Homo sapiens: one gene and its partner. The protein of the gene in region 1 interacts with the protein of each later gene in a biochemical or structural test. Each region holds a gene or a part of one and is shown on either strand. Other genes may lie near its edges.

Region 1 (7,108 bases):
AAGTCCAGGTCTAGACCCAAGCCCTGCCTCTCACAATCTTTCCCCATTTCTGCTGCCTCTTTGTTGCCTCTGGAGGATGAAGAGGGCTTTTTCGCTTGCCCTCAAATGCTCATTTCTGAGGTACCCCCCCCAGAAAAAGGTCAGGTAGCAACACAGCAGCAATAGTATCCACACTAATCTAAAAGCATATTTAAATATGAATTACTGTGGTAGGAAACGAAAGACAACTGTGTGATCCAACCACTGCCCCCTAACCAAAGTTGCATTTTTTTCTTCTGGAAAGTCAAAACACCAAGTGCAGGTTCTAGAGGGTGACACCAGCAGGGATCTCTCATCTTGATTAAATTGGCACATCAACATGTTTAATTAGATCTTTCAGAAAGTGCCAGAACATAGGATGTAAATGTCTTCTCCATTCATATGCAGCCAAATTTCCCAGGCAAAATACTTATCCTGATTCTGATGTAGTTCTTCACTTAGGACTAAAAAAAGGCTTAAGTATAATTGCTTAAGTGTATAAGGTGGTGAAACAGGAATCTTGAGCTACGGATTTTAAGTGGTAATAGCTACAGGATTTACTTGAATTGTTTGCTCTTTTAGGTAATTCTCTTGTCTTGTTCTTCCCAGTATTTCCTGGATTTGTTCCTGGCAACCTCGCTGGGTCTGAACTGCTGGCCTGCCCAGTGGCAGAAGACTGCTTGCAACCTTTGGTAGGCTTTTTAGAAATTTATGTGACCGTAATGGCTGCATTTCTGCAACCATAATAAACAATTTGTTTTTGGAAAAAAGCAGTAAAACACCCATCTCCAAAGACATTTAGACTACTTTGCAAGCATTTTGCACACAGGGTGATGATGCATTTTTACCAAACAGTAATAACTTGCTAAATATCCTAATGGCATTTAAATTTTTGCCAGCGTTCCCTCCATCCCCCTTTCTTGGAGCTTGCTGAATTTTTGTGAGTCCAGATTATTTTGTGCTCTTGTTCTCTCTCTTCTAGAAGAGCATTTTCTATTTTCCTCTCATAAAAACCCAGTTAGGCTGGGCACAGTGGCTCACGCCTATAATCCCAACAGTTTTGGAGGCTGAGGTGGGAAGATCACTTGAGGCCAGGAGTTTGAGACCAGCCTAGGCAACACATCAAGATCCTGTCTCTACACACACACACACACACACACACACACACACACACACACACACACACACACACACACACACAAGCCAGGTGAGGTGGCATGTGCCTATAGTCCCGGCTACTCAGGAGGCTGAGGTGCGAGGATTGCTTGAGCCCAGGAATTTGAGGCTGCAGTGAACAATGATCATGCCACTGTACTCCAGCCTGGGCGACAGTGAGACCCTGTCTCTAAAAAGAGAGACAAAAATCCAGTGGATTCTATTTTTGACTGATGTGTTTTTGGGCTAATCACTGATAACTAAACTTTTCTAAGTAACTCACCCACAGCAGTGTCTGTTGCTGTTCTAGCCGATAAAAAGTCACATGAATAGCGTGATCTTATTCAATCCTCATGTTCCAACTAAAGTCCTAAGTATTGTTTCTATTTTACAGATAATGAAAGAGAGGTAGAGCTTCTAAGCAACCAGGCCCGCAAGTAGTTAGTGCTGAGTGGGCGTAGGAACTGAATCCCCTGCCCCTTAGCTGCAAACTTTCTGGTGGTTTCTTGTTTTCAATATGGGGTTATGGTACTGTGTGACATCTCCCTCCCACCTCTGCCATTTAGCAGTAAAATATCCATGTGGAAAAGAAACAAAGTATGCAAGTAAATATGCTAGCTCTAGAGATAAAGAATCTCCCATATAGGTCTTCATCCGTCTTGCTACCAGCAAACTATTCAATTGGCACCGAATTTGCTGAATATCAAAATGGCTTCATTTATGTGCATTATAATATGAAAACATCTTTTCTATAAATACCATTAAGAACCTGGCTTTACTTCCTCTTCTGAGTACATAAAAACCGCTGTTCAAAAATACCACATTAAATGTTTACACAATTTATTTTCCTTAAATAATAATTTGCTACAATCCTGTCACAAATTTAAAAAAATTTAACACGGTATTCACAAAGGCAGAATTCTTTAGGACAATCAAAATGATGGTGTTCTTAGAATAAATTAACATCAGATTGTGTTTATATTCAGATAGTCTGATCCTCTCCTTTGAAATGCAATGGAGACCATTGTGACTGGGGGTGAATGCACACATTTGTTCTTCCATACAGAGACTCATTCTTTATATATACTCAACGGTAATTTGAATCGTTAGGAATCCTGAGAAACACTCACCCCTGGGCACACACATGTACACAGCCCCACGGCCAACCCTCCAGAAGCTGGGTTTCCCATGGTTCAATTACTAGAAGCTCTTTTCTCAGAAGGCCAAACATTCGGAATATTTAGATGACACTGTCCCATCTCCCCTTGGGAAAATCATAAGGTTTCAAGTGGAGGAGCTTGAAGTAGCAGCAATACATGTAGGAGATTCAGTAGTCGGTGATTCCAGTCCTGGGTGCTGAGTGTGCAGTAGGAGGCAAGCAGAGGCAAGAGACACACCTGCTTCTACAACTAAGCCACAAGATGACCAGAACACACTGAGAGTACCAGTTCTCAGAGCCTCAGCTGAAAATTCACCTGAATGCACATTACTAATCCAGGTTAGGCACCAAGAGGGAACCTGAAGAGGGACACAATTCTCAGAAACATGAATATTGGAAGTCGCTGGGAGATGGGACAAAGGGAGGGAGGGCAGAGAGGTGTTGCTCAGCCTTCAGCCTGACCCCCAGTGCCCTGCCATCTAGTACATACGTCAGGGTTTCCTTAGCATCAGGGCGGGTGAATCTGAATTGTTCCAGCTCCACCTAGAAGCACAGAAAGCTCAGCCCTTACAGTCTGACACACAGAAACAAACAAAACATCCAAATGACCCAAGATAACCACACCATCTTGTTGCTGGGAGGACAACAGCTCTGTGGGTGTCCGGTCTCAATTGCTCCAGGATGCCGACAGGGGTGTGTGTGGTGATGTTAGGGAAGAAGGCATTAGGACAGGCCCCAAACTGAGATCCTTTTTGTATCTTTCCATAGAAATACAGGCCTAAATGATGCCATAATTGCATGCTTATCTACACCAGTTCCTATGTACACGATATCTTTTCTATAGAAGTTTAAAGTGCCTGGGTTCAGAGGTGCCCATTCCTTTCCCACAGCTACTGGTTCCTCTTGCTGCTTCCAGAGAGGTCTGTCCTCCTCTTTCAAGGAGGATGCCCTTGGGAAAGAGGAATGAACTTTTTCACAGTTGTCTTAACTAGGATCCAGCATTTGGACTAAACCTTCTTCATACACACGAAGAATCGCTTCACACACAAACTTGTACTGGCTCTGGAAAAGAAAAAAATGCTGTCAAGTCCTGTAGCTCCAGGAAATGCTGCCTACCACACCCTGTACCGGTGGGTCTTTTGCAGCATTTGTAAATATTCCCTGAGCGCCAACTCTGGGCCACAGGCCAGGTACACCTGTGAAGCCCTAGTTCCTATATGATGCGGGGAGGGGGCACTCCCAGAGAGGGGTGGGCAAAGTGTCATGGAGACATGACAGAGGGAGAAACTGGCGGTCTGGGGGAGGTGGGAAGGAGCAAAAGTCCCTGCGGGACAGCCCTTCTTGTAAGTGGAAGTGTGGAAGCCTCAGTAAGAGCCCATTTTGAGAAACGGGGTCAGGGAGCCTGCTCCTGGACTCAACACCTAGGCATGTGGAGGAGGAGGGGCTGCACAGGTGGGCTGGGACCTGGTTGTGGGCACCTTGTGTTGGGGTAAGGAGTCTGGATTGTGTTTTACAAAGCAGAGCCACTGAAAGATGCTCTGCAGGATACAGTTATTTATCTTAGCAAATACCTAAGAAACATATTGTAGCAAAGTATACAGGGGGGATAAAAGCATTTAGACTGAGCTTCTCCAGCTAGGAAAATCTATCTATCTATCTATCTATCTATCTATCTATCTATCTATCTATCTATCTAGTTTTCAAGACAGAGTCCTGTTCTGTCACTCAGGCTGGAGTGCAGTGGCGTAATCTTGGCTCACTGCAACCTCCACCTCCTGGGTTCAAGCGATTCTCCTGCCTCAGCCTCCCAAGTAGCTGGGACTATAGGCACATGCCACCATGCCTGGCTAATTTTTGTATTTTCATTAGAGACGGGGTTTCACTATGTTAGCCAGGCTGGTCTTGAACTACTGATCTCAAGTGATCCACCTTCCTTAGCCTGCTGAAGTGCTGGGATTATAGGCGTGAGCCACCGTGCCCAGCTTCCAGCTGGGAAAATCTACCAGGATGATGGACTTTTTTCTTTTTAACCAGCCACGAGGTCTTCCATACCAAAAAACAGGGCAGAGAATGGCCCTAATAACATAAGCTGATTTTTTTTCTCTTAACAAGATTTTCTGGGTACAAACTAATATAAAACTACCAAAGCTTAAAAATTTATTAGGGAAATCTTATAAACTTTGTCCACAGCCTGTGAAGAGACAGAGCTGGTTGGAACATATAGTTCCTGCTCCTTTCTTTGCTAACTCCTCATGTACCCTGGGGGTTTTTACCAGAGAAGACACTTCTCCAGGAAGCCTTCCTAGACTTTCCAAATCCTGCTTTAGATACTCTTCCACCATGTTCTCAGACAGCCCTGAACTTCCCTCACCGCTGCTGACACTTAGCATAGACTAATCCAGTTCTCCTACTAGATACAAGCCTGTCTCTGCACCCTTCTTTGTCAAATGAATGAATGAATGAATGTGGGATGGTCCCCATTTTGCACAGGGAAGCTGAAGCTTGGAGAGAGGTTCAGGACTTATGCAAAGGTTGTTCCATTTGTGGTGGGACCTTAATCATGCTCTTTCCACACCGCTTCACTGCCCCGCTTGCAGTTCCAGGGGAAATCCCCAAGAGTTATCCCCTAGAGTTCCTCTTGAGGACAAGAGGATGTTGCACATGACCCTACTTTGAGCTCTGGCCTGCCCGTGGAGGACACAGCAGGTACTCAGGCACCACACGGGTGGAACAGAGCTCAAAGTAGGGTCATATGCAACATCCACTGAGCCAAAAGGAGTACCCAGGTCTAGGTGGGTCGGTGCGGGGGAGGATAATGGACAAATGATTGTTCAACGATACAGAATGCAACCAGGGCTGCTCCCTGACAGACGGGCTGGCAGGAAATAAACCACAGAGGCAGCAGAGCTCAGAGGTGAGATGGGTGTGGGCTGTAGCCACTGACAAGCTCTGTGACCTTGGGCAAGTGATTCAGTCCCCCTGAGCTGCAGTCTGTTGACTCACAAAGCCCTTCTCTCAGGCCTGCCTGGTGTAAGTGCTCAGAAAGTGCCAGCCACCGTAATTACTGGATTTCTACTCACTGATGTCTGCACCATCATGGCGCGCTGGTCTCGCATTTTTCGGACAATATCCAGTGGGTAAATGGGCAGGTTCCTCTCAGTTAGGCACATGGCTGTTTCCATAGTGACCAACACACCGGTTCGACCTATTCCAGCACTGGAGAGGGGAGAGAAGACAGACTTGGGATTTGTCTGAGTAGCCTTTCTGCATGGCCCAGCGAGCAGTTCCCCGCTGACTCCAAAGGGGCTTTCCTCCCTTGGCCTTCGAGAAGACAAAACGCACACTCACGGCGTGCTCTCAAACAGGCTGAGACAGCCTGTCCTCACACATCTGAGACTGGGGGCTAGCAGGCAGTGGAAAGAGGGCCACTGTGAAGTGCCAAACCTATTCCCTTTCTCACTCACACCTATGACGAAGGTCAGCTGACAGAAGGACAGGAGAAAGGGTGTGTGAGGGGATTTTCTTCTTCAGTTCTGTGCTACATTCACAAAGTTAGGATTTCATAAAATTCCAAAAAACTTTTGAAATGGTGAAGAACCACAGTCAACAGAGGTTTGTAAGGGCACACGACTTTGTGGGATGTAGGGTGGGTCTGGCGCCTGCCAATTGTCTCCAGGCCTTTTCCGACAGGGAAAGGATTCCAAACCTAACAAAACAGCAAGCGCCATACCTGCAGTGAACTAGGACGGGCTCGCTGTCCACTCTCAGAGACCTCACATAGTTTACAAATTCCAGAAAGTCGGAGGAGTCATCGGGCACACCGTGGTCAGGCCATGCGACGTACTGGAGATGTGTCACTGTGTGTTCTTCCCCGGTCTGTGGGAGATGCAGTGGCCTTGGTGAGCCCATCCAGGTGGTGAGCATGAGGACCCAGCCCCAACCCAGACACAGGGTGGCCCTGTCTCCTGATGCTTTCTCCCTCTGCGCACAGCCCTGCTGTGGCCCCTAGCAATTCCTCCCCTCCTTCCCCAAAGATCCCCATCCCCTCTCAGGCTCAGCTGTGGGCCTGTCCTGCAGGGCTGCCTTCCTTGATCACTTCTGCCCAGTGATCTCCTCTGCCCAGTGATCTCCTCCATTTGCTGCTATGGTACTTGCCATTAGAGGCCACACATGCTGACTGTTTTTTTTTTTTTTTTTCAACTGTGGCAAAATATACTAACATGAGGCTTACCACTGTAACCACATTTAAATGTACAGTTCAGCGGCATTGAGAATACTCGCAATGTTGTAGAGCCATCAGCACTACCTATTTCCAGAACTTTAAAATATCCCGCAAACATAAACCCTGCACCCATTATGCCATATGGCAAAATGTCCATAGATGTCCTTTCTCCTCCTTCCCCAAGCCCTTGGCAACCACCGTTCTACTTTCTGTCTCTATGAATTGGACGACTCTAGGCACTTCACAGAAGTTGAATCCTACAGTATGTGTCTTTCTATGTCTGGCTTATTTCACTTAGGATAATATGCTCAAGGTTCCCCAGTGTTGTAGCAGGGGTCAGAATCTCCTTCCTTTTAAAGGCTGAATCATATTCCATTGTATGGACAGACCACGTGCTGTTTATCCATTCCTCCATCGATGGACACTGGGCTGTTTGCACCTCGTGCCTGTTGTGACTAGGGCCACTGTGAACTCTGGGCCCTGGCTCTTTGATGGGCAGTCTTGCGCACTTACTGACACGCTTGCCAGGTGCAAACAGAGTGCACACCTAGAAG
Region 2 (7,000 bases), on another chromosome or scaffold:
CCAGGATGCCCATTTGAGAGCCAGCTGCAGGCAGCCCTTACCAGGTTTCCGACCTGCAGCATCTCCTCGAATTCACTTGTCATGTTGTAGTGCTCCAGCGCCATGAAGAGTGTGTTGAGTACGATGCACATAGTGATGGTGAGGTCAGTAAACGGGTCCATGACCACCAACTTCACTCCCTGCTTGATGGACATCCACAGCGGGCAGCACTCCCAGATCAGGTAGCGCTGGGCGAGACGGTTCCAGCATGGTGGACACTTGTGGCGAGACTCCTCTAACTCTGAGGGGACAGCCAATGAGTTAGTTTGATTCTGTTGACTGAGTCATATGTAACTGGAATACCTTCCAGGAAAGATTTATGACTTGCTCTGGGAGATGACAGGGCTGCTAGGTGACAGCGGGACAGTGGGAGCAGGGAAGGCCAAGGGAGTGGGTGGCCTGTGTCCTGGCTCCTTAATCTGGAAATATGAGAGAAGAGGTCCATAGGGACAGGAAACAAAGATGGAGGTGGGGAAAATGGGGACAGGAGAGATTATCAGGACAAACGTACAACTGCTTAAGACAACAGTCCCACATAGACCTGGGGACACTCAGGGGAGGACAGGCTGAAAATGATGAGACAGTAATGGGGACATGCAAGTTCAGACACGAGGACACCTGGGACAGAATGGGCAGGGACAGATGTGGACATCTGGGATGTGTCAGGACAAATGGGAGAGGGGATGCCAAGGACAGGCTGGAAAAGATGAGAATACATCCGAGATAGGAGGGAACAAGATCAGGATGGGGGGTGCCCCATTCAGACTGGAAGGGATGTGGAGTTGCCTAGGGCAGGAATGGCTGGGAAAGATGTAGGATGCCTGGAATAGTCTGAAGTAGATATGGGAATAGCTAGAACAGGCATGGGTATGCTCAGGACAGGATGGTCCTAGATAGACATGGTTATGGTTGGGAGATGATGGAATGAGACTGACAAGCATCTGGGACAGGCCAGATGTGGGAGTATTTGGGAGAAACACAGGCATGGTGATACCCAGGAGAGAACAAGCTGAAACAGATGAAAAGACATGGAAGGACAGGCAAGGCTACACAGAACAGAGAAGGCTGGGACAGTGTGGGGATGTCTAAAGCAGGCCAAGACAAATGGGGGATGCCTGGGTCAGGCTGGGATAAAGATGAGGGTACCTGCAGCGGAAGTGGGGGGTGCTTAAATGACCTGGGGTTGCTGACCTTCCAGTGCGCTGGTGAGGACGCTGACTGCGCTGAGGGCCCGCTGCCGTGCTCCTGGCTCCTCGAAGCCATCTACACACGGAGCCTGGGAGGTCAGCATCTGGGGCCCGCCTGGCTCCTCCGATGGCGTGGTCTGAGTGCAATCAGGAGATTTGCGTCAGCCTGGGGAAAAGGGTCCTGCCCCCAGCTCCTGTCCTGCTGGACCTGGGGAGGCCGGTCCAGACTCAGGCTGGGGATGCCACAGGGATAGGATGAAGGTCTTGATGGGACACTGGATGCTGGGCTTCTCTGTTCCCAACTCCCTCCCAGTTAAGAACTCCCTCCACCCCTCCTCCCAATCACTGTCTCCTTCATTCTCCTTTCTTCTTCACTGCCTCTCATCAGCAGTGATTCCTGAGTGTGGTCAGGAAGCTACACATATCACAGGTCCTCCCTGAGCCTGATGCTGCCATACACATTAGTACATGCAAAAATGATCTGGGAGTCTTAACTGACCACAAGTTTCCTAGCGTCAAGAGCATAAAGAAGCTGAAAAAAAAATCTAACATGCTCTAAGATAATGCTAATAGCAGGATAAAGTACAATGCTTACATATGGCTGGTGGGGGGCTGTGTCTTTTGTGGAGGCAGTTAGGCTGGATTTACCAAGAAAATTTTAAATTGGCCCTCAAGTCCTCGTCTAGTAATCTAACTTCATAAATAATTACACATGTGCATCAAAAATACACATAAATGATGTTCATTGCAGCAGTGTTCCTAATACCATAAGAACAAAACACCAATCAATAGCAACCATATTCAAATCAATTATAGACACAGTCCAACTCTGGGCTCTGATAGACAACAAAGAGAACGAGGCAGTTCTTTGGATGCTCCCATGCGGACATCTCCAAGACAAACAGTTTGATGAAAAAACAAGAAAAAGATCTGGAAAATGCATACCAAATAATTAAAGTGGACATATCTGGGGAATGGGATTGTGGGGGAGGGGAAAAAGAGGGAGAAGTTCCCTTTTCACTTCATGTACTTCTGCACTGTGGGGTTTGTTTTCACCATGCATGCACCATTTTTATCAGTAAAAAACCCAGGCCTGGAAACAGCCCTGGTGAAGGGAGGTGGCAGGCAGGCATTCTCTAGGCTTACCTGGAGCCTCCCACAGAACCAAGGAGGGCCAATAAAGCCTTCACTTCAGCAGGGCCCTGCATGACCACGGCCCAGGTGCTGAGCTGTTCAGCATGCAATAGCAAGACTCTAATCTTCATAGGGCAGAGGGAAGATGGGCCTAGATTAGCCAGGGTAGAAGAAGCAGGGCATAGGGTGGATACCAAATAGATCTGGGCTCAAGTTAAGGACATCCCGGCCATTGGTAGGACTGCTCTGAAATGTTGCCTAGGGAGGTAGTGAGCTCCCAGTCATGGAAGTATTCAAGTGGAGGCACCTGAGAGGGCTGAGGTGGCTGGTGCAATGGTACTACCCTAGGTCCAACGCAACCATGAATTTGGCCAGCTTAACTCACAAGCAAGTTTTAAATTCTCCCAACTTCTCCCCTCCTTCTTTGCCATCTATGATAGTTTGGTTATCACTTGGCACATATGCACTCTCTTTCCCCTCCCACCGAGGGTGAATTAACTTCCCTGCCCTGGGCATGAATGACTTGCTTTGGACAACAGAATGTTAGTGGACATGCTGTGAACAGAAACCTCAACTGGGCTAGTGCTGTTTATCTTGCTCTTGTGCTCCAGGAATTCTCCATGAAAAGAGCTTCCCCAGATAGCTGTCACCTTTTCAGCCTAAGCCTCAGAACAAAGATGCAGAGCAGCCCTGAGCCTAACCCACAGCATGGAGCCCAGCCCAGCCAGCATGCCGTCTGGAGCAGGGCTTCCCAGCTAAGCCTAACCTACATGGGCCATGTTGTAGTTAACTTGCAGATAAGTGAGCATGAGAATAAAGGCTTGTTGCTAGAGATTGACTTCTGGGGTAGTTTGTTACACAGCATTATTATTATAATAGCTGACTAATACACCATCCTAGTCCAGGCAGTCATCTTCTCTTTCCCAAAACCACTGCAACAGCCTCCTAACTGGCTTCTTTTCTTCTTCTCATCCCTGTATTCTCTGCATAGTAGAAAGGGATTCCTTTAAAAAGTAAATCAGATAATGTCACTCCTCTGTTCAACAACTCCTCCCACCCTACTCCTCCCCATCTTACTCACACAGTATATCCAAACTTATCTATGGTCTAGAAGGCCCTGCACAGTCCAAATCCTAACTCATGAAATTCATTTTAATGTTTCACCACACCTGGCCCTGTTAGTCCCTCTCATCCCTTGGATGTGTCCTCCTCAGGGGCTTTGCACTTGCTATTCCCTCTGCCTGAACGCTGTTCCTCTGCATCTTTAGGGCTGGCTCCCTAAAATCATTTGCCTGTCAATTTTAATGTTACCTTCTTGGGAAGGCCTTTCCTGAGTATTCTAATAGCCCTCATCCTCATCCCTCCCCTTAGCAGCTTTCTATCACATGACTTATTGCTACCTGAAAATATTGATCAGTTTACTGTCTTCCTAACTACGGTATAAACTCCAAGAGACAGTGATCTTGCCTTCTTTGTTCACTGCTATAACCCTGGAGTCTCAACACTGCCTGGCACGCCACATGGCAGGCTGGCACTAGATAGATATTGGTTGGATGGATAAATTCTTGGGAATCAATCGGAAGGCTTGGGTTAGAGTTCCAGCTCTGTTCCTAACTTGCTAGGTGGCCACAGGAAATGAGGATGAAGATTTAACATGTAGGGGGAGAAAAGGAATGGATATTCAGTGTGCTTCTCCCACCTCCATCTGGACTTTTGGAACCAGGCAGTCTCATACAAGCAAGGGGCAAAGTAAGTCTTCAGCCCCTACCTCCCAATCTGGATAAACTGAACGTGAGCTGTCTGCTGGGCTGGCCCTTCCTTCCCATCCTTGTTGATTAGGCACCCACAGTGTGCCCAACCCTGTGCTTTGTTTTCAGACTAGAACTGGGCAGAAACGTCTCACTGGGGACCCAGTGGAAGCACAGAAGGCATTCCCAGGGGCCTGCAGCCTGCTAATCTCTTTGACTCTTCAAATGTCTCCATCTTGGTTTGCTAATTCCTTTAACTTTGCAAATGACCCTGTCTTGGCCTGCTAATCCCTTTAAGGTTACAAATGGGCCCCACAGAAGTGAGAATGGGTGAAGTCAGAATTCCTGGTAATGAAGTGCTTGAACTTGGATTCCTCCCGACATGTGCAGTACAATGAGATGATTTTCTCCTTAATGAGATTAGGAAATTCTATTAGCGCTCCCAGCTGCTGACCCGATTCCATGAGGCTGAGGCTCCAGGGCTGAACCTGCCTGGTTCAGTGTTCCTGGAAACTAGACACCCCACCCTTCAGATGGGCCAGGGCCTCCCCAGCTCTACCTAAAGCTGTGGTCTGCCCCCAGGGGTGCCCAGTTTCCTCCCTTCACCCTGTGCTCCAGAGGAGTGTGGGGCCCTGGGCATTCTGCAGTGTACCCCAGGATCCTCACTCCTTCCTGCTTACTAATACCAATAACAGATAATACTAATGGCTCTAAGACCAGGCAAGTATTGGTCTCAACACTGGACCTAGTTGCACTCTTTCAGTCCTCACCACAACTTGCTGGCGTATAATTTTCACTTTACAGATGAGGAAATTGAGGCACAAAGAGATTAATTAACCTGTACCAAGTCCCACAGATTGAGCGAGAGTCTGAGTGGCACAAAATAAGCCACGTGGCTGGGAGCCCTGCATCTTCAGGCCATCCTCCACCTTCCTGGTCAAGCCTCCCATCTGTTCTACCTTCCTCTCCAAGTGCGCTCTGCAGGCCTTGGGGGTTGAGCCAGATGTTCAGCTTTTTCCTGGGTGGGCTGCTCTGGTCACTGTGTTGGGGGCCTGGGGTCAGCAAGGACACCTGATGGCTGATTGGGCAGCCATCAGTCTGTCATAGAACTGACTAAGTGACCAAAGCTCTGATTGGCCTTTCACAATCTGGCCAGTCCCTTCCTATCACCTTTGTAACAGTCACTGCAACTTCTCTCCCCGTCGCTCCCTCTGTTCCAGCCACACTGACCTCGTGGCATCTCCTCCAACAGGCTAGGCAGAGTTCTGCCTCAGGGCCTTCACATTTGCTGTTCCTTGTGTCTGGAACAGGCTTCCCCAGATGATGGTAATGAAGGCTTTACTAGTTGTGACATAGTTAACTATCATCCCTCTTTATCACCATTACACACAATATAGACATTTTTTCTTTTTGATTTTTTTTTTTTTTTTTTGAGATGGAGTCTCACTCTGTTGCCCAGGCTGAAATGCAATGGCATGATCTCAGCTCACTGCAACCTCTGCCTCCTGAGTTCAAGTGATTCTCCTGTCTCAGCCTCCCAAGTAGCTGGGATTACAGGCACGCGCCTCCATGCCCGGCTAATTTTTGTATTTTTAGTAGAGATGGGGTTTCACCATGTTGGCCAGGCTGGACTTGAACTCCTGACCTCAGGTGATCTCCCCACCTCGGCCTCCCAAAGTGCTGGGATTACAGGCGTGAGCCATCGCACCTGGCTTTCTTTTGAGTTTTGTCTGTCTGTCCCCATTAGCATGGATGCTCTATGAGGGCCCAGTTTTTTTTTTGTAAGTTTATGCACCTAGAGCCCAGCACACAGTAGGTGCTCAACAAATATTTGACGTGTATTTTTGGACTTGGCACTGGTGATCAGTTTGGGAGACCAGACCTGCTGTGGTGCCTGCATCTCGGGGCTGGCTCACCGTGTCTGGCGGGTGCTCTAGCATCACAGGGCGGAGGAGGTGGCTTCCTGGGGATGTGGCCTCTGGGTCGCCTGCCCCCAGTAATGAGACCACCCCATTGCAGTCCACAGTGCTGTTCTTTTTGCCATGGAGGGCGTGGCCAGGAGCCGAGGTTCCGGGACTGGGCTGTCCCTGGGCACTGGTCCGGCGCAGGGGCCAGGGCACCAGCAGTGATGTGTGGTGGCTCTCGCTCTCCCCCGCTGTGCTGTTTTCATCATCTGCAAAATCTGCTTCAGAACCCAGGTCTCGCCTGCGAAAGGTGAAAATGCTCCCGCGGCTGGAACGTGGCTTCATAGAAGTCCTGCTGAGGCCACGGGTGAGGCTGAGATGATTCTAAGGGCATGAGGAGAGGGGACACGACCATGACATGTGCTCTTCATGTGCTCCCAGCCTGTCTTTTGTGCCACTGGCCTCAGCTAAACTTCTCAGAGCATTGAGGGCTTTTTTGGCCACACAGGAACCAGGTGGGTTGGGCCGGGGGTATTTGGAAGAGGGGATGTGGGGTTAGAGATAATCCTGTATCTTCTGGGATGTCTACTCCCCTCAAATCTATGTCTCTGGAGCTGGGAGCCTGAAACTTAACTGGGCTTGGAGTTAGAGCTCAGGCTGGGCAAGGGAGAAGGAGGCAGGAAGGCTCCTGGTGTTGCAGACAGGCCCGGCCTGAGGAGGACCTGGGGCACTCGGAATGGACCCTCACTCTTATGGGCATGTCCTTGAACTCCTACCAACCCATACCATGGGGTCTCGTCCCCCAGCCCCGGCTCCAGTGCCGGGATACTGGCCTCAGGTTGGGGATATCACAACACCCAAAACTACCCTGTCCCTCTGCCCAGAGCTCCCCTACTCTAAGGAAGGCCATGGGAAACAGGAAGCGCAGAGATGAGCAACCATGGGGGCTGTGACTGTACAGGGGCCTAGCATGATGGGATTTTCATGC

What was found. Proteins that work in one complex are often made in the same cells at the same time.
Region 2: the proteins of PTPN3 (region 1) and SCN5A form a complex in vitro, tested with the Homo sapiens proteins (2 studies listed by IntAct, with this or other methods).

What each region holds. Positions count from the first base shown.
Region 1 is NC_000009.12:109,376,240-109,383,347, forward strand, and holds part of PTPN3 (tyrosine-protein phosphatase non-receptor type 3), read right to left. Parts: intron 6,209-7,108; coding exon 6,063-6,208; intron 5,549-6,062; coding exon 5,413-5,548; intron 3,395-5,412; coding exon 3,317-3,394; 3' UTR 1-3,316.
Region 2 is NC_000003.12:38,597,688-38,604,687, forward strand, and holds part of SCN5A (sodium channel protein type 5 subunit alpha), read right to left. Parts: intron 6,397-7,000; coding exon 6,025-6,396; intron 1,364-6,024; coding exon 1,231-1,363; intron 281-1,230; coding exon 42-280; coding exon of another isoform or gene 1-41. UniProt on the Homo sapiens protein: Pore-forming subunit of Nav1.5, a voltage-gated sodium (Nav) channel that directly mediates the depolarizing phase of action potentials in excitable membranes.